3 separate regions of the Homo sapiens genome follow, and regions 1 and 3 are each linked to region 2. The links come from fine-mapping of genetic effects on gene expression. A gene starts in region 2. Each other region holds a variant in brackets. All regions are shown on one strand. Distances are between the middles of the regions.

What was found.
Region 1: its variant is fine-mapped to the expression of TBC1D22A in lung (TOPMed, PIP above 0.99).
Region 3: its variant is fine-mapped to the expression of TBC1D22A in whole blood (TOPMed, PIP above 0.99).

What each region holds. Positions count from the first base shown.
Region 1 is chr22:47,169,750-47,177,746 of GRCh38, reverse strand. It overlaps TBC1D22A (TBC1 domain family member 22A), which reads right to left. Exons shown (of 13, transcript NM_014346.5): 13 at 2,054-4,249. The coding sequence ends at 4,121. Among named protein-coding and RNA genes, the nearest start is that of TBC1D22A-AS1, 260 kb to the right of the region's middle. RefSeq lists enhancers at 806-1,896, 5,994-6,493. The variant C/T (reference allele first, on the strand shown) is at 2,846.
Region 2 is chr22:46,758,998-46,766,994 of GRCh38, reverse strand. TBC1D22A (TBC1 domain family member 22A) reads right to left here and starts at 4,345. Exons shown (of 13, transcript NM_014346.5): 1 at 4,147-4,345. The coding sequence starts at 4,208. TBC1D22A-DT (TBC1D22A divergent transcript) reads left to right here and starts at 4,467. Exons shown (of 1, transcript NR_186691.1): 1 at 4,467-5,084. RefSeq lists enhancers at 2,628-2,677, 2,698-2,777, 2,818-2,887, 3,818-3,897, 4,598-4,727 and 1 more and a silencer at 3,638-3,697.
Region 3 is chr22:46,970,370-46,978,366 of GRCh38, reverse strand. It overlaps TBC1D22A (TBC1 domain family member 22A), which reads right to left. Exons shown (of 13, transcript NM_014346.5): 9 at 3,968-4,077. Among named protein-coding and RNA genes, the nearest start is that of TBC1D22A-AS1, 58 kb to the right of the region's middle. The variant C/T (reference allele first, on the strand shown) is at 4,122.

The sequences.
Region 1 (7,997 bases), 410 kb before region 2:
TAAGCGGCCGTGTGCCTCCTGGGTGGAGGCCATCCTGTGCTGGGGACCCTCCATGCCAAGGAGCTGCAGGGTGGGTGTGGAAAGGCCTCACAGCTGAGTGGGGGCCACCCCAAGCAGCCCGCAATCCCGCAGGGCAAAGTGCAGAGCCAGAAGGAAGCCAAGGGGCTGGGGCTGAGAGAGGAGAGGAACGGTGGGGTGGACTGGGGCTGGGAAGGCCCCAGGGAGGTCCACACCCCGAGGGGTCTGAGTCTTGGGCAAACTCCCCAGGACTGCGGCCGAGAGCAGATCACTGGGGCCACAGGGCTGACGAGGAGCCTCCAGCTCTGGAGGACGGCGGCATGGAGGCTGGCATGCTGCAGCCTGCGATGGCGCGTGTCATTCTGCAGCCTGTCCCCAAGTCCTCAGCGGAGTGGGTCTGCTTGAACACAGACAGTATTCCTCCTGTTTCCATCCATCGGTGACACGGCACAGAAGCGTCCCACCTCCTAGTTCTTCCAAAAGTACAAACCACAGAGACTCTCCATCTCCTACTCCCCAGGACCCCAATGCTCCCCGACGCGTCTGACCTTGCCAAGGGCACAGCAGTGGTGCCAGCAGGCCGAGCCTCTCCCTGGGACCGGGCAGGGTGAGGTGCACAGGACAGCAGCCACCACAGGTCAGGGATTGATTTCAGGACCCCTGGGCTCGGGCCACCCACAGGAGCAGAGTCTGCACAGGCTGTGAAGACCTCAAGTTGGGCCCGAGGAGCCAACTGCTGAGCTGCAAACTCCGGGGAATCGTGAAGGTGAATGGCAGTTGCTGGGCTGTGACCTGGAGTCAGGAGCTGAACACCTGGTGGCTGCTGGGGACAGCCGATCTCCGTCCTGCAGCCTACGACCCTGCAGACCACAGCCAGGCAACAGTGAGGTCAGCCCATGTGCCGGGCCACCGGGCCCAGGAAGGCAGCCCTGCCTGGCTCAGCTCCGCACTGGGTCACTGTGGAAAGAGAGGTGAAGAGGCTACTCCCACTTTGTGGAGCCACCAGCCCACCCGTGGGGACAGGAGCACACCCCACACCTACGGGGACAGGAGCACACCCCACACCTGGTCAGTAGTGCGCACCCCACACCCGTGGGGACAGGAGCACACCCCACACCCGTGGGGACTGGAGCACACCCCACAGCCGGTCAGTAGTGCACACCCCACACCCGCGGGGACAGGAGCACACCCCACACCCGCGGGGACAGGGGCACACCCCACACCCGCGGGGACAGGGGCACACCCCACACCCGCGGGGACAGGGGCACACCCCACACCCGCGGGGACAGGGGCACACCCCACACCCGCGGGGACAGGGGCACACCCCACACCCGCGGGGACAGGGGCACACCCCACACCCGCGGGGACAGGAGCACACCCCACACCCGTCAGCGGACAGCACAAGGCAGTGGAAAGCCAAGTGCTGCCAAGGGAGGGTCCCGAGGGTGGGGCACCCAGGGGGGTGTGGGGTACCTGAGGGTGGGGCACCCAGACGGGGTTACTCAGAGGGGTGTGGCGCACCTGGAAAGCTGCCCTGAGAAACTGAGGCCCTTTGAAGGGCCTTGCTTCAGTAACACAGGGCAAGGAGGGTGTTTCAGTGTGTGGGTGAGGGTGAGGCAAGTGTATCCCAGGAGAGGCGGGGGGGACCCCAGACCCTGGTGCCTACCCCGGAACAGCCCTTTTCAAAGCAGGTGCTTGACAGATGTGGCCCAAGGGGAGGTCCCTTGTTCAGGAGCCTGACAGGGGCCAGCCTGGACCCCACACTCCCGTGTTCCAGCTAGTGCAGAGCCGGGCTTCGGGGGTCAGACTGGTTTCTGAGTCTTGCCCCGCCCGGGCAAGTGGCATCCCTGCACCACCTGAGCAGCTGCAGCCCCATCTCCCTGAGAGGTCCTGCGGGGGGCAGCGAGATCACGGGTGCTGCCGGGCCCACGCTGGTGCGCCGCAATGGCCCTGAGCTCAGACCCTCGGCAGGGCTGGGCCAGGGTGCCCCTGTCCTCGATGGGCAAGTCCTCGAATCACAGGCCAAGGCCGCGGCTTTGTCACTGATCTTTATTCCGTGTTTTTAGCGCACCACATCCAGACAGCACACCCCGAACATTCCAGATGGATCTGCTCAGACTTAAGGCCCGCGGCCAACACCTCTCACATTCAGTCTTGGCGTTTACATACATGAGGAAATGCACACAGGGCTGAACTCCGTGGAGCTTCCTGTTTAAAACATCAACCACCTCGAGAAGCAGGTCAGTTGTGTCCGCAGCCTTCTGGCCACACGGCATGATCTGAGCTGGAGAAGGGGATCCTCCCAGGGCTGATCTCGGCAAAGCGACATGGGGCTTCCTGCACACGGCCGAGGGGCGGCTCTTCTTGTGACGGAATCCCCTCCCCATCTAGAAAAGGAGGCGGCAGGAGGAGGAGGCATGGCTGGTCTGAGGAACCCTTGACCCTGGGGTGGGGACACGGAAGGCAGGGGTAAGGCGTGCCCGCATCTGATGTGAAGCAAGCCCATCCCTTTGCTGGTTTGGGAGCATCTGACGTTTGCACAGCATTTTGTGCTAATTTCCATGCTGTGTGTAATGACCCTGGATTTTTAAAACAGAAGCAGAAACACACACATCACTTATGCCTGTATGTCCCACAGTCTCTGGCAGTGTCCTAGGGCCTGGGAGAGGACACGGCTGCTCCTGAGGGACAGAGGAGAGTCTGGGAAGTCAGTCACCAGTGGGTCGCTGAGGACGTGAGCCTGTCCTGGGCTCAGGGATCAGACAGACTGTGGCTGTGGCCCTGCCCGCATTCCAGGGGTCATGCAGCCTGTGACACACCGAGGGAA[C/T]GCTGGGAAGCCAGTCCCAAGGCCCCTGGAGCCAAGGACACAGCCCTAGCAGGGCGCTGGGCAGGGACCAGCTCTGGGCCCTTCCGCACTTAGAGCCCCAAGGAACCAGTCCACAGCGGGAACCAGTCCAGGGCAGAACCAGTATACAGCGGGAACTGGTCCACGGCGGGAACCAGTCCACGGCAGAACCGGTCCAGGGCAGGAGTGGTCCAGGGCAGGAGTGGTCCATGGCGGAACCGGTCCATGGCGGAACCGGTCCACGGAGGAACCGGTCCATGGAGGAACCGGTCCATGATGGAACCAGTCACACCTCCCCTACACCTGGCAGACCTGGACAAGGACAGCAAGTCCCAGGAAGTCTCCAAAAGCTCATTCCGCTTCCAGGCTGCGGTGAGAAGAGCACTGTGGTTCAGGGCTTTGATGACAGGGACGCGACCCCCTGCCCGTCTGCCAGCCCAACATGGCCCGACAGCCTGGGTGGGCCTCCAGGGGCTCTGGCTGAGGCCGGCGCCTACCTGCGTGGCGGGGCCACTTGGCCCTGGACCTCAGGGAGGTGGGGGTTTCTCTCTTGTAAAAGAGGTTCAAGGTGGAAAGTAAGGCGATGGCGAGGCCTCCCTCTGCTCCCAGCCTTTGGTCCCACGGCCTCCCAGGCACTCGGCGGGCTCACGGCTTGGACTCCAGCCTTCAGCTTCCCAGCCACGTTTAAACCAAGCAAGCAGGAAAACACACGGAGGGAAAGGGCCAGCAGCAGTGAAATACAGCTGTGAGGGGACCTCGCGGCACAGAGACCCCGGGTCAGCGCAACGTCTCGGTCTAGATTTTGTCTACATTTTATTCTTTCACTCAACAGAATAGAAGTTTTGCATTTCAGAGTAGGTATGAGATGGCCACTACCTCGTTCCGGCCCTGGCACCCAGACAGCAGGACTCCAAAGAGGGTCGGCCTCCTAGGCTGCCCCGGACTAGGGGCAGCACGAGGCAGTCATTTGGCAAGGACATTGCAGGGAGAGGGAGAGGGGACCCCTGACCTGCCTCTGGCCGCCGAACCCGGGGCCCTCCCCTGGCTCTCTTTGGTATCTCAGAAAACAAAGGCTGTCCCTGTCTTTGTCAGCCCTAGACCAGGTCTGTGGCCCATCTTCACCAGCTCCCCTGGAGGGTGGGGCCACCTCACAAGGCCTTTTAGCAGCCCGGGACCAGCTCACAGGGGCCTACCACCAGCCAGGCAGGTGGGGCGCGCCACCCGGGACAGTGAGGCCAGCTGCGGGTGGGCCTGGGCTCATTTCTTGTAGTGATTGGGGGCGTCGGCAAAAGCAAACTTGAGGCGGTAGGCCTCGGCCAGCAACAGGCTGATGTCCTCATCATCCCAGTGGGCTGTGGGCAGGTTCTGGAGGAAGAGCAGCAGCTCCTGGGGAGAAAGAGACAAGCCCAGGTCAGAGGAGGTGACCCACGGTGGAGGGCGGGTGACCCCAGAAAACTGGAGGGAAAGATACAAGCCCAGGTCAGAGGAGGTGACCCACGGTGCAGGGCGGGTGATCCAGGAAAACTGGAGAGAAAGACACAAGCCCAGGTCAGAGGAGGTGACCCACAGTGGAGGGTGGGTGACCCAGGAAAACTTGCCCAGCCGGCAGCTGCTCCCTGCTCAACCCCAGAAGGGCCCCAGGCCTCGCCCCACGGCCACCGCCCCATCCCAGCAGCCAGGCAGGAGGCCCACTGCGCAGCTCCAAGTCCGGCATCTGAGATGTCGTGGCAGGGGCCGCCCAGAGCTTCATTTAACTGAATCCCCTGCCCCTCAGGGGGAGACCCAGCTCTCGGGGCCCTGCTGCAGCTTTGCAGCCTCCGCCCAGGAGCTTCCCACTCCCACAAAGCCTGTATCAGCCCAGGAAGTACCGCAGCACCCCTGGAACTGCCACTAAGCACAGATTTCTGTGCACCAGGAGACCCCTCCGGGCACCAGCACCATCAGCAGATGAAGCCCACACGAGGGGATCACAGAACGGAGCCGGCTCAGGCCCACCCCGGGAGCCCAGGAGCACAGCAAAGCGCCAACTGGCCCCTCCTGCATGACCACCTCACACCAGTGGGTTGGGGTGCAGGGCTCCACCAAACCCAGCTTCAGGTCTAGGTCCAACCTGGTGCCCTGGAACAATGACTCCACCCCGAGGCCCAGCTTCCTCCTCTGCAAAATGGGGCCACCATTTATTTATTTATTGCTTTCTAATGTGCTTATTTGCCTTAGACTGAGATTTAAAAATTAATTCCAGTTACAACCAAAGAAGGCCTTTCTGTGGAAGTGACATTTGATCAGACTCTTAAAATTCAGGTAGGATTCTCATAGGTAAAGATAGGAGGTAAAAGGTTTTACATAAAGGTGAATGACATGCATGTAAGTAGGAAAATAGGGAACTATAGGGAATAAGCAACAATTATAAGTCGTTCAGTGTGGATAAAATCATCTTACATGTGTATTTTTAAAATCTCGCCTCCTGTACCCTTCATTCTCCCATTCTACTTCCCAGTCACAGCATTTATTGCATTGAATTCACATAGTACAAATTTTTATTTACTGTAGTAAATTACTGTCAGGGCTGCTGGACAGACTGGGAAAACACACATACGGCCAGCAGTACAGCCAGCACTGGGTGGGCACACAGTGGGCTCCATGGGCATGCTAGGTAGACACACCAGGCTCACTGAGCGGGCACACTGGGTGGACACACAAGGCTCACTGGGCATGCTGGGTGGGAACACCGGGCGGGCACACCGGACTCACTGGGCTCACTGGGCACTCTGGGTGAGCACACAGCTCACTGGGAGTGCTGGGTAGGCTCACTGGGAGTGCTGGGTAGGCTCACTGGGAGTGCTGGGTAGGCTCACTGGGAGTGCTGGGTAGGCACACTGGGCTCACCGGGCGCACTGGGCAGGTGCGTTGGGCTTACTGGGAGTGCTGGGTGGGCTCCTCTGGCCTGCAGCTGGGCCGTGTCTCAGATGGGCTATGGGGGCACTGAGTCCCACCCCCAAAAGACACATGGGCGACTGTCTCCAGAGCTCATGGTCTGGAGGCCGGGATGCGGACACTGAGGAGATGGAGACTGACCTACGTCCACTGAGGCCACAACGGGGAAGGAAAAGCACAGGTCCTCGGGGGACCCCCCACGACCACCGCCTGACAGCCCCGCCCTCCCACATGACCACGCCCACATCCACAGCTGCTGGCAGCCCACCAAGGGCAGGGCAGGTCTCCGGGGACCCCAACACACAGAGGGCTTGGCAGAAGTAGGGATCAGAGAGGGCTGAGTGGCCAAGACAGCCTCCTGCAGTGGGGGTTCTCAGAAGAGAAACAGGGGACCATCAGGTCAGGGCCAGCCCAAGCCCAGGCTCTGTCATGAAGCTGGGCAGACTCCCTGAGGGAGGGGTCTACACTGCTCAGATGGCCCTGTGGGCTCTGGTCCTCGAGAATTTGCCCCCAGGGGGCCACCTGCAGGCTCCCCGGCTTCTCCTACCTCCCACCCCAAACAGAAGCTGGATCCAGGAAGTCAGGAAGGCGGCTGAGGAGCCCTCAGGGTGCTGGAACTGCCCTTCCCCACTCCTAGCAGGTGACAAGGGACAGGGAGGGCCACAGGCTCGGGATGCCCATGTCGCCTGCCTCGAGAAAACGCAGCCCAGCAAGACTGGCATGGAGGGGAATGGGGGGTAGCTGGGCTCTGAAGTTCACATCCTGTCTTCCTGTCCAGGTGGTCTTGGGCAGTGGGCCTGGCTCTCCAAGCCACACTCTTCTTCATCTGGAGATAAGGATGGCAGGCTCTCCACATAGGCACAGCCAGGATGAGCTGAGCTGTGCAGGCACAGAGCCTGGACAGATGACCTGGGCTCACATCCTGGCTGTGCCGGAGGCTGCCGTCTGCATGTTGCCCCACCCTCACTGAGGCAGGCCCCCCGGCCATCCCGGAGCTGCGCTCTCCATTTCCGAATCAGGAAGATTACACACCAGGACTGCCCTCTCTCCGGTCCTGCATCAGGAGGGTTACACACCAGGACTGTCCTCTCTCCGGTCCTGCATCAGGAGGGTTACACACCAGGACTGCCCTCTCTCCGGTCCTGCATCAGGAGGGTTACACACCAGGACTGTCCTCTCTCCGGTCCTGCATCAGGAGGGTTACACACCAGGACTGTCCTCTCTCCGGTCCTGCATCAGGAGGGTTACACACCAGGACTGTCCTCTCTCTGGTCCTGCATCAGGAGGGTTACACACCAGGACTGTCCTCTCTCCGGTCCTGCATCAGGAGGGTTACACACCAGGACCGTCTTCCAATTGCTATTTCGCAGTTGCTGGGCTTCCACCCCCACTTCCTCAATTCCATTTCCTTTCGCATTTTGGATACTTTCAGTGGGCCTTTAAATTGAATTCAGGGAGCGAATTTCACTGGCTAAAAGTCCCTGGGGACATATCAACATCAATCTGCTGTCTTTCACCATTAGATGCAACTTACATGGATGCCAATCCAATTCTGAGCAGGTCATAAATAAATACCTTTGGTTTTATTTTTAATCCACTTCGCTTCATATTATCATGACCTCGCTCCTTGCAAGGTGAGAAGCAGTACCCTCCCATTACGGTAACTCACCGACTCTACTGCACACTCAATTTCAGAATCTAATTTAGTCCGCCAGGTTCACTGGATGGAGGGAGAATAGAAATGCCCAGTTCTTCGCAGCCTGCAATGCTAAAGAAGGAAAAATCTATCTGGGTGACCTTTACGGGAGGAGAAGAACACAGCCAAACACATCCTTAAATACAGATTTCTTTTTTAAAAAGGCTTGTCTTATTTATGCACTAGGCCACGTCGTCTCCTGTCTGGGAAACGCGGCACATTTATTAGCCAAGAGCTGTTCTGCATCACCCACACCAGGCAGGCAGAGGGGCCACCACGGGCGAAGCCATCCCTCGGTCACATTCAGGGACATGGCTCTCCCAGCAATGACGGTGCTGCCTGTCCAGGAGGGCAGGTGGAGAGAGGCCTGCCCAGGGCCCAGCCCAGAAAACTATAGACGGCACTTGCATTTTCATTCTTAACTTTTCCATAAACAATTAATGGCCACATCTGTGGATCTAAAAGTTAAAGGAAGGCTCTGCTCATCACACTGATGCTGTAGAA
Region 2 (7,997 bases):
AATGCAAGAATGAGAAAGATACTTTTCCTAAACCTGTGGATCTCACTAGTGAAAGCAAGCACATACCAGGGAGAACAGGAAGCCAGAGGCACCAACAACACTGAGTTTGATGCAAAAAAGGGGGACTTTAGTTCAGGCTGCATAAAAACAGGAGGTGTGGGCCGGGCACGGTGGCTCATGCCTGGAATCTCAGCACTTGGGGAGGCCAAGGCGGGCGGATCATGAGGTCAAGAGATCGAGACCATCCACACCAACATGTTGAAACCACATCTCTACTAAAAATACAAAAAAATTAGCTGGGCATGGTGGTGGGCGCCTGTAATCCCAGTTACTTTGGCAGCAGAGGCAGGAAGATCACTTGAACCCGGGAGGCAGTGATTGCAGTGAGTCTAGATCACACCACTGCACTCCAGTCTGGGCGACAGAGCGAGACTCCATCTCAAAAATAAAAAAGAGTTGAACTATCTGAAAGATCCCTTACTAGTCTTGTATTGTACAGTGGGTGTAGTCTTCCTCCTGAGTTTCCTTGAGATGAGGGCTGCACTCAAAAACAAAGAGGAAAACAAGGCTGGGTGTGGTGGCTCACGCCTGTAATCCCAGAACTTTGGGAGGCTGAAGCTGGTGGATCACATGATCAGGAGTTCAAGACCAGCCTGGCCAACATGGTGAAACCCCATCTCTACTAAAAATACAAAAATTGCCGGGCACAGTGGCTCAAGCCTGTAATCCCAGCACGTTGGGAGACCGAGGCAGGAGGATCACAAGGTCAGGAGATCGAGACTATCCTGGCTAGCACGGTGAAACCCCGTCTCTACCAAAAATATAAAAAATTAGCCAGGTGTGGTGGCAGGCGCCTGTAGTCCCAGCTACTCGGGAGGCTGAGGCAGGAAAATGGCGTGAACCCGGGAGGCGGAGCTTGCAGTGAGCCGAGATCGCACCACTGCACTCCAGCCTGGACAACAGAGTGAGACTCCGTCTCAAAAAAAATACACACACACACACACACACACACACACACACACACACACACACACACATAAATTAGCTGGGCGTGGTGGCCAGTGCCTATAATCCCATCTACTCAGGAGGCTGAGGCAGGAGAACTGCTTCAACCGGGACCCAGGAGGTGGAGGTAGCAGTGAGCTGAGATCATGCCACTGCACTCCAGCCTGGACTACAGAGAGAGACTCTTGTCTCAGAAAAAAAAAAAAAAAAAGGAGGAAAACAAGGCCAGGCATGGAGGCTCACGCCTATAATCCCAGCACTTTGGGAGGCTGAGGTGGATGGATCACCTGAGGTCAGGAGTTCGAGACTAGCCTGGCCGACATGGCGAAACCCCATCTCTACTAAAAATACAAAAAAACAGACAGGCGTGCTGGTGGGCGCCTGTAATCCCAGCTACTTGGGAGGCTGAGACAGGAGAATCACTTGAACCTGGGAGGCAGAGGTTGCAGTGAGCCAAGATCACACCACTGCACTCCAGCCTGGGCAACACAGTGAGACTCCATCTCAAAAAAAACAAAAACAAAAACAAAAACAAAAAAAGAAAGAAAACAATCATGGGAAACAATTGAAAGAGCTGCCAAAGCCACAGGAACCTGGCTAGGATCTCCACTAGCACTGTGCTTGCATAGGTGTGGACTAAATAAATACGCAGCTAGTGACCAATCACCACTACTGATAGGAAAACGGGCACCCCTCTGTGACTCCTCCTTCAGGGAAGAGTTCCAGCCTGCCACCTGAAAGAGCAGCACTGCCAGAGGCTTGAGCCACAAGACGGATGGGAGACACAGAGGCTTCACAGGCCTTCCTGGTGCACCCAACCTCTCCTTCTTCTTCTGCCCTCTTCAGTGACAGCCTCGAACTCTCCAAGACTCCAACTTCACAAAGGTAATACAGAAGCTGCTCTCAAAAGTGCCTAAGACACAGAATAGCATCAAAGTCAGAGGAAAAGGAAAGCTGGTGTTCGGTATTTCAGGTTCACACAGAAGAAAGCTGGAGACTGTATTAGTCTCCTGTGGCTGCCATAACAAATTACCACCAACTGAATGGCTTAACACAACAGACACTTATTCTCTCTCAGTTTTAAACGCCAAAAACCCAAAATCAAGTGGTCATCTGCAGGGCCATGCTCTCTGTCAAGTCTCTAGGTGAGCATCCTTCCTTGCCTCTTCTAGCTTCTGGTGGCTGCCAGCAACCCCTGGCTTTCCTTGGCTTGTAAATGTACTATTCCAATCTCTGTTTCTGTCTCCATAGGGCCATTTCCCTGTGTGTGTCTCTCTGTATTCAAATTTCCCTCTTTTTATAAAAATACTAGTTGACGAACTAAGGCCCACCCTCATCCAGTATGACCTCATTTTACCTTGATTACTTGTGCAAAAACCCTATTTCCAAATGTCACATCCATAGTTTCCAGATGGACATAAATTCAACTCAGTATAAGGACAAATTACCAAGAGCCACAGCCTTCAATCCAAAGGTTGAGTCACTGCTGTAACTCCACACAGCAGCTCTGTTATTCTTACATCTAAGCTGATTAAGAATTAGAGTTTAGACTGATGAGGAACCAAAACCTTAAGACCTAAAAGTAACACATAAAAGTTACACTGTCATGTGGCTCCTCTTCCCTGGACTCTTATGTTCTACAGCATTTGTTCCTGTCACTACCAGGACCTCCTACCCACCACCATTCCAGAATCTTCACTCACCTTGGACCCTGACACTGGTTTTGTTGAAAGGTCTTACTGTTCTCGAATCAAGCACGGTCCTGTGGAGTCGAATAGGGTCTCCGGCCACCTTTGATGACTCCCTTCATTCTCAAAGCCACTGTCTGAGCTGTCAGTAACTCACGCTGCTAACCCCCAGATCACTCTTAAAAGTAAACTTTCCTTTTTTTTTTTGAGACAGAGTTTCGCTCTTATTGCCCAGGATGGAGTGCAATGGAACGATCTCGGCTCACTGCAACCTCCACCTCCCAGGTTCAAGTGATTCTCCTGCCTCAGCCTCCCAAGTAGCCAGGATTACAGGCATGTGCCACCATGCCCAGCTAATTTTGTATTTTTAGTAGAGACTAGGTTTCTCCATGTTGGTGAGGCTGGTCTCAAACTCCTGACCTCAGGTGATCTGTCCACCTCGACCTCCCAAAGTGCTGGGATTACAGGCGTGAGCCGCCACACCTGGCCAAAAGTAAACTTTTCTAACTGGATGCAGTAAATTCCAAAGTTTATCATTCAAACACTCAAACAATAATATTTATTATGAAACAGGAGTACAAACCATTTTACTGTGTTTATGAATGATTCTACTCAGACTTATCTTCGTAACACAATTCATAATTTTCAGCATTCCAGACTTCAGCTTTGGAACAGAACTATGTTCTGAAATCTTGACGTTTGCTTATCTCTGATCTGTTTTCACCAGTGGCTGATTTTATCCTAGGTACCCTCCACGTAATGTCTCATTCCCTAGGGCCCTGGCATAGCTCAGCGCCACAGCAATCAGACAAGGACTCTGGAGCTCTGGAGCTGTATAGCATCTAGGGTGTACCCAGGTCATTCCAGCCGAAGAAAAAAAAAAAAAAAAAAAAAAAAAAAAAAAAAACTTCCTGCTAACACAACATAGGAGGTGGTTTTGACACCAGCAAGCAGAAACATGGAAACTCACAGGGAAACTCTAGTCCTCTTCTATGCTCAAGGCAAGAGCCGCAGCCCTCAAGAGACCACAGGCAAATCAAGTGGGTCAAAAACACCACACCCCCTGCAGAAACTGATCCACCCAGCAGACGGGGGGCCTCAGCCCGGCCAGCTTCCGGACTCCACCAAACTTCACAGCATGACCCGAATCAGTTCCTTCCAGCCTCCCCAAGGAGCCCAGGAGTTTCTCGGAAAGAAGCCTGCCAGTGTCAGGAAAAACGCCAATAGCTCCTCCTCGTCCTTGCAAGCCTCGATCCTACGTGCAGCCACTGTCACCCCCAGACCCCACGCTCCGACCTCCGAGCCCCCCAACGCCCGTCACACCATCCAGCAGTCTCCTCAGAGTCCAAGTTGCCCTCTCCAGACCCCCGACTCCACCCGCAGCCCAGGAGGCCAACGCGGCCACCTGACCTCTGACCCCTGACCCCGACCTGGCCCTCCGCGGCACACCCACCTGCCCGGGAGCTTGCTGTTGCTGCGCTTCCAGAATTGCTTCCTGGCCCCGTCGCTGGCCATGGCCCCTCCTCATCCCTCAGACCCGCGGCCCAGACACCCCGAGTGCACCCGGCCCTCCCCTAGCGGCCCTTTCCTGTGCCCCGGGTGGCCCCTCACTGCTCCCGGGACTCCAGAGCCTAGAGCCGAGAAGCTCTTCCGCCTCCTTCCGGAAGTTGTGCCTACGCGCGCCCGGAAGTCCCGCCTAAGTCCCTGGTGGCGAGTGACGCAGCACTCCGAGCGCCCGTCGTTATTAAAGGGCGACGCCGCGCAACGCACGTTACACGCATCGCGGAGGGAGCGGAGGTGGTTGGGTTTCTGAGTTTGAGTCTGTCGCTCCTGGCTCTCCCGACACAACAGCGGCGCCCACCTGCCCGCAACGGACTCCCAGGAGCCTCGAGCTCCTCATTTCCAAAGCTGAACTGCCCCGTGTCTGATTCCGATTTCTCTTGAGCGCGTTTCGGAGCCGGCCCAGAACAGAGGGAAGCCAGACACACCATACCCGGCCCAACAGTGGCAGGGCGGCTGCGGGTGCTGGTCAAGCTGGGTCACCCGGCACTGAGTGACGATCAGCAAATACTCAGTGGACGAAATATTTGCAGTGCAGTGAGGTGAGGGGCATAACCGCGGAGCGTATTCGAAGAGATGAGAGAGACTGGGGATTAGGCCAGGCTTGAAGGGAAGAATGGTTTGAGCACCGAGGACAAGAATTAATTCCCCAGGCCTGGGTTCCAGCCTTGTGCGGCTATCACGTGCTTGAAACCTGGCTAGTCCGGAGTGAGATGCGCTTTACGTGTAAAATACAGGATTCCAAAGACGTCGTATAAAATAATTTGTATATTGTTTGCATGTTAGGTAACATTTTTAATGTATTGGATTAAATAAAATGCATTAAAATTATTTTTACATTCCTTTTACTCTTTTTAAAATTATTTTTACCTTTTTTATTCTTTTTTTCCGGGGGGGACTGGGGGTGGGTGTCTTGCTATGTTGCCCAGGCTAGTCTCGAACTCCTGCCCTCTAGTGATCCTCCTGCCTCACCCTCCCCAGTAGTTGGAACTGCAGGTGCACACGTTATGACTAGATCTTTTTACTGTGTGTGTGTGTGTGTGTGTGTGTGTGTGCAGAAAATCACTAAAAAAACCGTGTCTGGTTTGCATTACATTTCTGTGCTTCTTAGACCAAAGATTGAATGCTCAGGGACTGTCATTTCAGACTGGAGCTTTAGTGTATTTGGAGCTCCTGCCAGTTCTCTTTTAAAACAAAAATCTAAGACATATTTTCTGATTAAGAATTTCCCTGGAGGCTGAGGCAGGAGAATAGCGTGAACCCGTGAGGCAGAGCTTGCAGTGAGCCCAGATCGTGCCACTGCACTCCAGGCTGGGCGACAGAGCGAAACTCCGTCTCAAAAATAATAACAATTTCCCATGCCTCTTCATTTACTGGTAAGTAACATTGACTTAGTACTTACTATGTGCAAGGCGTCCTACTCTCCTAGAATCCTCTCCTAGTAGGGCTCAGAAGGCCCCAGGGGTCTCCTCCTGACAGAGCCCTGACAGCCTCAGACAGTGAGGTCCCCTACAGACAACACTGAGGACCATGGCGGTTCTTTCCAGCTCAGTCTGGCTTATTGCAAGAACCAGTGAGCGAGGTGACAGCAGGATTAACCTGATGGAAGGGGAAAGGAAGGAAGAACTGAAACAATTGACAGAGGAAAAACTGGCAGCACTTAGTGACTGGTTACACCTTAGATCCGGGTGCTTTTTATAGCTTACCGTATACTTTGCTAGCTACTGTTTTCAGGCGAAGGAGTGAGGCTGAGATTGACTTGAAGGCTTCAAAACCAGCTAAGCAAAGGATTACTAGGATCACAACAGAAACGTGAAGATGGAAAAAGAAAGTCTGAGTAGAAGGCCAGTTTTGAAAGCCAAAGTAATACAGATGTTGGAGTCTACATATGGGACCTAGGAATTGGGACAGATTCTCAAATCCCAGAGGTATGGAATGGAACATTTTTTATTCATTTTTGCAACAAGTATTGAGCAGCAATGCAAATTAAAACTAAGGACATACCATGTTACACTTAACAGATTGGCAAAAACTTAAAAACCTGTCTTTACCAAACTTAATAAGGATGTGGATTTGTGAGCAGAGCAGAACTCTCTTGCACTGCCAGTAGGAGTGTACGTTCATTCACTAACTTTGGATGGCCACTTAGCAATTTCTAGCAAAGATACTCTATAACTTAGCAATTCCACTCTTGGTATGTGCTCTAGAGTACCTTGCCTATGCGTGCAAACACAAGAATGTTCAGTGCAACGTTGCTTCTAGTGGTAGTTGGGGTCTGGGGGAGAAGCAACCAAAATGCCATCTATGGCAGAATCGATAATCTACACAGTTATGCAGTAGAATACCATAAGTTAGTAAAAATGAATACATTAGTTGCATACATCAACATAAATGAATTTTGCAAACTGTGGGGTTGTTTTTGAAATGGGGCTTACTATGTTCCCCCGGCTGGCCACAAAATCCTGGGCTCAAGTGATCCACCTCAGCCTCCTGAGTAGCTGAGTACAGATGCAAGCACTACCGCACCTGACTCCACAGTGTTGAATGAGAAAAAGTTGAATATTAATTCACATGGTATGATACCATTTAGTACTATTTTCTTTTAAAGGATGAGAATGCGACCAGGTATGGTGGCTCATGCCTGTAATCGCAGCACTTTAGGAGGCTGAGGCAGGAGGATCCCTTGAGCCCAGGAGTTTGAGGCTGCAGCAAGCTGTGATCATGTCACTGCACTCCAGCCTTGGCGATAGTGCCAAACCCTATCTCAAAAAAAAAAAAAAAAAACCAGAATGGTAAAAGATAAATTCAGGAGGGTGGTTGCCTATAGGTACAGGTGGGGACTGTGAACAGGAAGGAATTCATTCATAGCGGATCAATTGTGCTATTATGCTTTGTTTCCTAAGGCAGATGGGCTATATTCAGGTGTTGGTTATATTCTTTATGAGTTTTTACATGTATAAAATGTTTCATAATACATTAAAATATAGTTATTGAGTTTGAACTGTGCTATGCACTGAGCTACATTGAACTACATGATAAGGCAAACAAAAGTGCAGCAGGCCAGGCACAGTGGCTCACACCTATAATACCAGTACTTTGGGAGGCTGAGGCGAGAGGATCACTTGAGACCAGGAGATCAACACTAGCCTGGGCAACATAGGGAGACCCCATCTCTGTGAAACTTTTTTTTTTTTCTTTTAGCCAGTCATGGTGGTAAACACTCTTAGTCCTAGCTACTTAGGAGACTGAGGCAGGAGGATCACTTGAGCCCAGAAGTTCAAGGCAGCAGTGAGCTAGGATCACACAACTGCACTCCAGCCTAGAAAACAGTGAGACCCTGCCTCAAAAAAACAAACAAAAAAAAATTGGGATAGTATTTCAGGATGGCTGGATTTGCAATGCCATTTGGGTTCCTCGGGAAGTGTTTTCTGCTTTCTTTGCTTTCAGATGGCCTGCTCCGGGCTTAGAATATCTCTCACAGGACCTTACTGAGTGAGCTGCCACACTCCCACTTGGTGGGTTCTGCCTCCTAAGTTTCCTGGTGCTGTACCGTCCATAGGCACCGAGCCTGTGCCCCAAAGTAAAAAGCTGACTGTTCTATCTGTATTGGTTTCCTAAGGCTGCTGTTGGCAGAATGCTGCAGACTTAGCGGCTGAAAACAATACACATTTACCCTCCTACAATCCTGGAGGTCAGAAGTCCAAAGTCTTAGCACTTCACTGCACTAAACTCAAAGCGTCAGCA
Region 3 (7,997 bases), 210 kb before region 2:
GATTTTCATTGTTGTTGTTAAATAAATTACTAAATATTTTTAATTTTCTCTATTTGAATTTCCAACATGGCAGTTATCAAGAGAATTAACCCACACAAACAAAAGCTCTTCAAGCTCTTCAATAATGTTTGTAGTGCAGAGTCCCAAGGCACACAGGCCTGGGCATGTCAATGGCAGAGCCCGTGTCCCTGCTCTGGGCAGCACCTGATCTCCCTGAGCAGGACTGGCTTCTGTGATCACACCTCGCCAGGGCAGGAGAGCCTGCACTCCTAGCCATGAGCTGGCCTGACAATTCCCTCCAGCCAGTGGAGTCAGCGCTGTTCGCTCCTGGAGGACCTCTCTTTGCTGTTAAGGAGTCCCACAATGCGTGTTAAACAATCTTTGGTCAATACCGCTAATACGGTTTGGATCTGTGTCCCCACCCAAATCTCATGTTGAATTGTAATCCCCTGTGCTGGAGGCGTGGCCTGGCTGGAGGTGACCGGATCCTGGGGGCGGTTTCTAATGGGTTAGCACCATCCCTGCTAGCGCTGCGTCGCTGGGTCATGAGATCTGGTTGTTTAAAAGTGTGTGGCACCTCCCCCAACCCCTCCCTCCACCTCCAGCCCTGTACGACACACCAGCTTCCACTTCACTTTCTGCCATAATTGAAAGTTTCCTGAAGCCTCCTCAGCTATGATTCCTGTACAGCTTGTGGAACTGTGAGCTAATTAAACCTCTTTCTCTATAAATTACCCAGTCTCAGGCACTTCTTTAAGCAGTGCGAGAACAGACCAATCACCTAACGTTTCCAGGGATTTGTCGGGAGAAAAGTGGTTTGTTCTTTTTCCTAGTTTGCCATCTTACTGGGGGCTAAGAGCCTCCTCTCCCAGCATTCTGTCCTCGCCTCCATCAGCTGTCCACTCCCCCTGCTCCATCCCACCAGGCTCTGAGCTTCTTGGGGACAGAGGGGTGATGCTGACTCACCCCAAAGTCTTCCGCCTCTCTGAGCACCTGCAGAGAGAAGGCAGGTGCTTCATACATCTCGGCCAAAATGACAAAGTTAACTAATTACTGAAAACAAGTAGAATACGGAATCTCAAATTGAGGCTCCAAAGTGAGCCAAAAACATAGTTATGACCATCCAGGACATCCAAAGGTAAAAAAAATAGATGTGGTTTCTGCCCTCTAGAACTTCCCTGCAAATGGGACTCACTTCTATGTATTTCAGCTAGGAAAGATCCCAGAGCCGTCAACGTGGGTTTTAATACAAGCCACGTCACCTGGGCAATGGGCTTCATCTCTCTTAGTCTCAGCCTTGTGTGCTGGGTGTAACCGAGCTCCAACCTGTCCCGGGAATGCCCACGCCAAGAAGCACCGTCACGGCGAAGACAATGTTAGTTCCTCACATTCATTCCCATGGGGACTGCCTACCAATCACAGAAACTGTGGGGCTAGGAGGCCCTTGAAGACCCTCTTCCTGGTGAGGAAGAGCCCCCAGCACACAGTTCTGGCTCAGCGGCTCCAATAAAGCCTCTGCAGCAACGGCGTGGACGGCTGCCACAGAGCCGATGAACAAACACGCCCTTGAAAGAACGCTGGGAACAACTGGTGGAGGCCGGGCTGAGAGCCTGCACTTCAGAAAACCAAGAGAGAGCTTCCCCAAGGGTTTCAATCAGGGCGATGATGTGGTGAAGAGGGTGCTTAAGGAAGATGGTTCGAGCAGTTCCAAAAGAATGAAATGGAGACAGTAAGACCAAGAGTAGGAAAAGGAGCTAAGAGGCAGAAGCGGCCAGGTCGTCCGGGAGCTGACACGCCGGTCTGCGTGTTGCCGTGGTTTTAAGTGAGTACATAGCCTCATACTTCTCTGAACTTAAAACAGCGGCAGTGCTTGTAAACACTAGTCGCTAGAGGAGCTCTGCTCGGACGGCCTTATCTACAGGAATCACAGCTGAGCTGCCAAGTCCCCTGGATGGTGGGAACTGACATCCCTCAACTCTTGCTCCTGGGAGGATCATGTGGAATCCATCGTGGCACGTGAGAGAAGATCAACGGCTGCCACGGGACGGTGATGTGCTATAAACACACGCGCCAGGAAAGCATGATCCCTCACACTCATCGGCCCTGCCAATAAACCATTGCATCAGACCACAAATCTCAGGTGAAAAATGAAAAAGCCAGCATCGATTTCATTGTACAGCAGATTTTATTTACAAATAGAGGGCAGATAATCTTGTATTTAAATGGCACAAGTCCCATCACTCACCATCAGAGAAGCGACATTTGAAATTTATAAAGTTTTACATTATGATTCAATCCTTTTTCTAAGGGGGCAAAAAGCCGAAAGATCTAGCAGAAAGAATAAAATGTATGAAAATATTAGTAAAGGAGGGGAAATGACAAATTGGTGCTTGGGCCAAAATATATCTCTAGTGGGCACATTTTTCTTTGCAAGGAACAAAGTAAGTCACGAGGAGTCTGGACCAGCCAATAGATACGAGGTTTCCATTCTCCAACCGCACAACAGGCTTCTACTTTCTCCTTTTTCATTCCTACATCATGAAAAGTAACAGCAAAAACCACACGTCTTTCCTCAACGGAACCTTTTAGCTAATATATTCAAATTAAACTTGGAGTCTAAACCTTAGACCACAGGCTATAAAAGCCATATTCTGATGATTCTGAATCAAGTAGATGAGCTGAGACCTCTTCACTTAGTGGTATCAGGAACAACCTTTACCGCAATGGCTCAGGAAAAGCCAAGCCCTGCTAGGCAATGCAGATGTCAAGTGACAACCCCATCTCTGTGTCTCTCAGATGAGGGCCCCCCTTTGAGCTGGGATAACAGGGATGCTGGCAGAACATGCAGACCCTCCCGGGAGGCCCCAGCTCTCAGCAGAGAGCCATCTACATGCGAACACCCGTGATGATCTTGGTGTTTGGTCCCTCAGAAAACGATTACCGACCCAAACCGCGCTCTGGGCTTTGACCCTCCTCTATCTGACAAGTCCTGCTCTGTCAGCAAAATTCACTGTCCCCTGTAATCTACTTCTTCCCACCTTTGGGTCTTTGGGGTCGAGTGCCTTCTGTCCCCTCATGCCATACTCACCCGTCTACCCTCCACCCCGAGTGAGCTTCCGGAGCAGGCCTCACCCTTACTCGCCACTATGCCCGGGTGTGGAGCACAGCACCTCACAGGAAGCGAGTGTCTAGAAAGGATGTACTGGCCTCAAATAAACTAAGACGCCCACACCCACTCCAGGGCCCATCCATCCCCCTCAGCTGTTCCTCTGTAGTATCAGCTGGCTCCAGTCCTCATTCCTGACTCACCTACCAACAAGGTCCTTCCCAGGTACTGTGTGGGAATCTGCCCCTACACCATGCCATAGGATTGGCCGTCACTGGGAGACCTGTGGCTTTTCTACAGAAATCTCAGCCACTAACCCTAGCTGATGCAGAGACCCGCAGGGTCCCCACTGTGGTGCAGGGGACTCCCACCAGCTCGTGTTGCTCTCTGGGAGCAGGCACAGCTGCAGCGCCCCACGCACCTGGAGCCCTGGCCACCAATACTGCAGGCGAGGGCTCACAGCCTGGTGTCAGAGGCCAGGAGCTGTGGCCCCCGATCTGAGGCCCTTTAAGGAGGATCCCTCTTAGCACAGCTAGCCACACACACATAGCTACCGTGAGCCTGTGCCCTATTTGGTGGTGGTGGCTACAGTCTGCAGGCAGCAGGGGATCAGACTCTGCACCTCGCCTTCCCACTGGGCCCTCAGCAGGACACGTGACCGTGCCCAGAACGAGGGGCACATACACTGTGTCTCACCCCTCGTCAACCCGGAGGGGTCTGTGCTATTCCAGATGTAGAAAAGTGAGGCTTCAGGAGGGACTGCATGGCCACACTGAGACTCAGGAGCAGCCTAAGGCCTCAGGCTCTCTTCACCGCAGGGGCTGTGGGCGTGGGCTGTGTCCCGTGGGCGCGGGCGCTCACCTGAATGCCATCCAGCAGCTTGCTCATGCACCAGTAGGTGTCGGCCTCGATGTTGCACAGCACCTCTGCGGGCACGCCGGAGACGTCCACCGTGTCCACCTCCTCTGCCTCTGGGCGGCGCCGAGCATGCAAAAGACAAGGAGACTTAGCCACA[C/T]GGGACCTCGACCCACGAGGGGGCCCACGGAGGAACAGAGCTGAGCCTGCATCCAGCTCCCTCCACCCACTCTCATCAGTCTAGCTAAATGACTCATGCAGCCTTCCACCTCATCACTTAATGCTTCTCAATCTTAACACCTAATTAGTTGCAGATAATTAATATTCTGAATCTTCTCCAATTAATTAACATAATTAATACATTATAAACTATTGCTTCTCAGGCATTTCACATTCTAATAAGAGAGAAAATAGAATATATTACTTAATCCTAACAGATCTGAAAGTTTTTTCCTAAGATTTTGAAAACTCTGCTTCTGATATATTTACATATTCATTTGGCAATAATTCCTCTAAAAACCTCTTTCCAAAGTTAGAGTTTCCAAAACTGCACTGGGTAAATACTTCCATGCTATGATCAAAACCCCAGAAAGCCGTACCACAGATGTGCGTCAAAGATAGAACAGACAATGGCGCTCTAAATAATTTCCTTCTTAAAGTACAAAAAACCGAATGAGAAAACACAATCTAAAAGTTTTTAAAATGCAAAACAGATGCCTAATTGAAATGGCTTATCAGATATTTGAACAAACTAATTTTAGATCCTTACAAAACTGTTGTCATCCAGCAAAATACTCATAAATGTTTTAAAAATTATCTTCCCTATTTTTAATTTTTTTTTACTTTAGTTTTATTTGCATGGCATCTTCGCAAGGAAAACGTTCTTTAAGAAAAGAAACATTTCAACCCAGAATATATGTAGAAAGGTTGAAGCAGATAAACATCACAATCCTGATACGGATGATGCTGCCGCTGGTGTTGACCGGGGTCTGCTGACGCGCCAGGCCCTCTCCTGCGCACTGTGAATGTGCGTGCTCATTTCAGCTGTCACCACTCTGCTGTCACCACCCTTGAGCCCCGGACAACAGCGGGGTAAAGAGGGGCAGGGCCGTGGCTATGCCGAGCAGCCTGGTACACATGGGGAGGGGGGTGCCAGATGCAGCCCCACCTACTGGTCCCAGAACCCAGGTCCCTAAGTGCTCCCTGAGGACCCAGAGGCCCACCTCACATTCGTGTCGTGTACAGTCCTATCCCATCGCGCTGCTTCCCCAGTCGCAGCCCTGCACAATTGCTAACTCACACTGAAGTGTGTGACTGGAAGAGACGAGGTGACACGCCACCTCCCACGGTTCTTGGTTCACCCCAGAACCAGCAGGATAAAAGGGCAAGAGCGCCTCCGTGTCTGACCCTCCAGCAGGAGTGAGCAGCTGGGCGCTCGAGGGCCTGGACAGGGAGGCAACAGCCCTGGACACATCCAACATGGCGGGACCTGCGGGAACGTGGGAGGGTGGGCGGATTCCAGCCAGTTCGCACATCACTCCTCTCTCTGGGGTGCTGGGGGTGGACCCTCAGTCACTCCATGGGTATTGCTTTGATTTGGTTCTGGGTTTTGTAAACGGAGAGATAATTCATCCGCCATAAAATCCACTCTTTAGCGTGTGCGACAGAGTGGTCTTGAGTAGGGTCACAAGCGTCACCGCTAGTTCCAGAGCCTTTGCATCACCACGGAAAGAAACCCTGGACCCTTCAGCAGCCGCTCCCCACTCCCCACCCCACGCCTGGCAACCACGAACCTGCCTCTGTCTCTATGGAGTTGCCTATTCTGGACATTTCACACTGCTGGAATCAGGCTCTGCGGCCCTCTGTGACTGGCTCCTTCTCACTGAGCACAATGTTCTCCAGAGTCATCCATGCGGCAGCCCGTGTCAATGCCTCACTCCTCTTCACGACTGAGCCGCACCCCTACGGCCAGGCCACGCCGCGTCTCTGCATGCCTCGGCTGGTAGACCCTGGGCTGTCTCCACCAAGGGGTAATGTGGACACAGAGAGCCGGTCCCGTGGGCGGGATCTGTCCCTATACACCAGGCACCAGGCACAGACATGAGTGAGAGACCTGACGCCCTCAAGATGCTCATGAATTAAAGGGGAAAACAAGCGACTTTAAAGATTGGAAACATCAATGTTAGGTGTCGGAGTCACCCAGTGGCATGGGGAAATGGATGGGTTCCTCCTGGGACCCGGGCTTGTGAAGGACACCATTGTCCACAGCATACCGGGTGCAACCAGGCCCTCACTCTCTTGGCCCATGTTTTCACCCTAAAAGGCAGGTCCCAGTTCCCCATTCCTCGAATGCGGGGCTAGGATGACAAGTGCTGCTGGCTGGCCATGGCTCTGTCCCCTGACCCTCCTCCCAGCCGGGTGTGCCCATGACACCAGCACTCTCCTGGTGGTTCTGTCCACCCACCGGCTCCCTGCCGGGCTGCAGGCTCTCCCTCCAGCAAGTGGCAAGGTGTCTGGTCTCAAAACTCTGCTGGCGCAGGAGCCCGGGTTGACCTGAGCACACCCTCTGATGAAGCCCCCACAGGGACTCCCAGGGAAAGGCCCTGTCTCCCAATTTCCCACGGCAGCCCAAGGTGGGAGGTGTTATTTCTGCCGGTTCACAGATGCAGAAACTAAGCCTCCACGCGCTGATCAGTGTGCTTTGTGAGGCAATGGTGGGAGTGAGCAGGACAGGCCTGCCTCGACTCCAAGTCCAGCCCCCTCGTAACGCCTTTCCTACTGGAAGGACCGGCAGCAAAAGCCAAGCAAATAGACAGGAGGGTAAGTGGCCTCCCCCTGGCATCACTTCCTCCCTGGGAAAACAGTTTGGGCAGAATCAACTCAACGTTCTGCTGGCCTAGAGTGGGTCTGATTTTATTTCCTCTTCTCAGGGAACTGAATCAGCAGCAATCATCAGCAGGCTTCCTCTGAGAAGTTTCCCATCGACGTATCCTCTTTCAAGGGCCTTCCAAGCATGGAGACATTTCCTCAGAGATAATAAGAGTAAACAGGGAACTAAGGCCTCCCAGACCTTGACAGCCTCTGCCTGAGTGCACAGATGCAGCTGGGCTGTGGCAGCTCCGACTCGCAGAGCCAGGCGCCGCGTGAGCCAGGCAGGAGCCTCGCTCTCTTGGTCTGTTTAGCTGGCTTGTTATTTTATCTGAGGAAATGTCAGTGGCCTATTCTAGGTGTCATTTCTCACAATGGGCCATTTGTTACTCTTCAAGGTAATGAAGTAATGGCATTTAACTCAGAGAGCCCCCGTGGTGATTTGTCTTCTAAACGCCAGGAGAATTGGAATTACCCTTATTGTTAGAATGAGATAAATATCCCCCGCCAGAGAAAGCATCCCCCACTTTGGCAAAGGCACACAGAGTGGCACAGGGCACTCTGGACTCCAGGCTGTGACAGCGGGGTGAGGGCCAGGACAAGCTGCAGAAAATACCCACGGGCTGGTGTGTCTGGCCCCTGGGGAGATAGCCTGGGAAGGTCCAAGGCCACCCAGAGGAGCCCTGTCCCTGGGTGTATGGCCCAGGCGGAACTGCAGGCAAGATCAGCAGGTTTTCCCTGGCTTCTATCTGTTAGATGCTGATATACAAAACCAGAGTCCACTGTGGGGAGAGAATGGTCTCTGAATCAAGACTCGGAGATGGCCAACACCCATGACAGATTTTAACCCAAGACCTTCCCACTCAACGGTACACACTGTCCGCCAGGCATGCTGCCACCCATGAGGCAAGGAGGGAGAACGAGAAGGGAGCAAACTGGAACGAGGCACGACCTGGGAAGCCCCATGGCTGGGGCCTGCATTGACCAGCATTGGGATGCTCACAGCCGGGCAAGCCACAACAAGGAGGACAGGTTTATCTCCCAAAACATGTGTCACTCCATAGGACAGCAGAGATGACAGCACTGACACCAATCGAAAAAAAGATTTTTCAGGTAAGATCACAAATGAGAAAGGAAAACACAGACATGGTAATTCCAAGCAATCCCA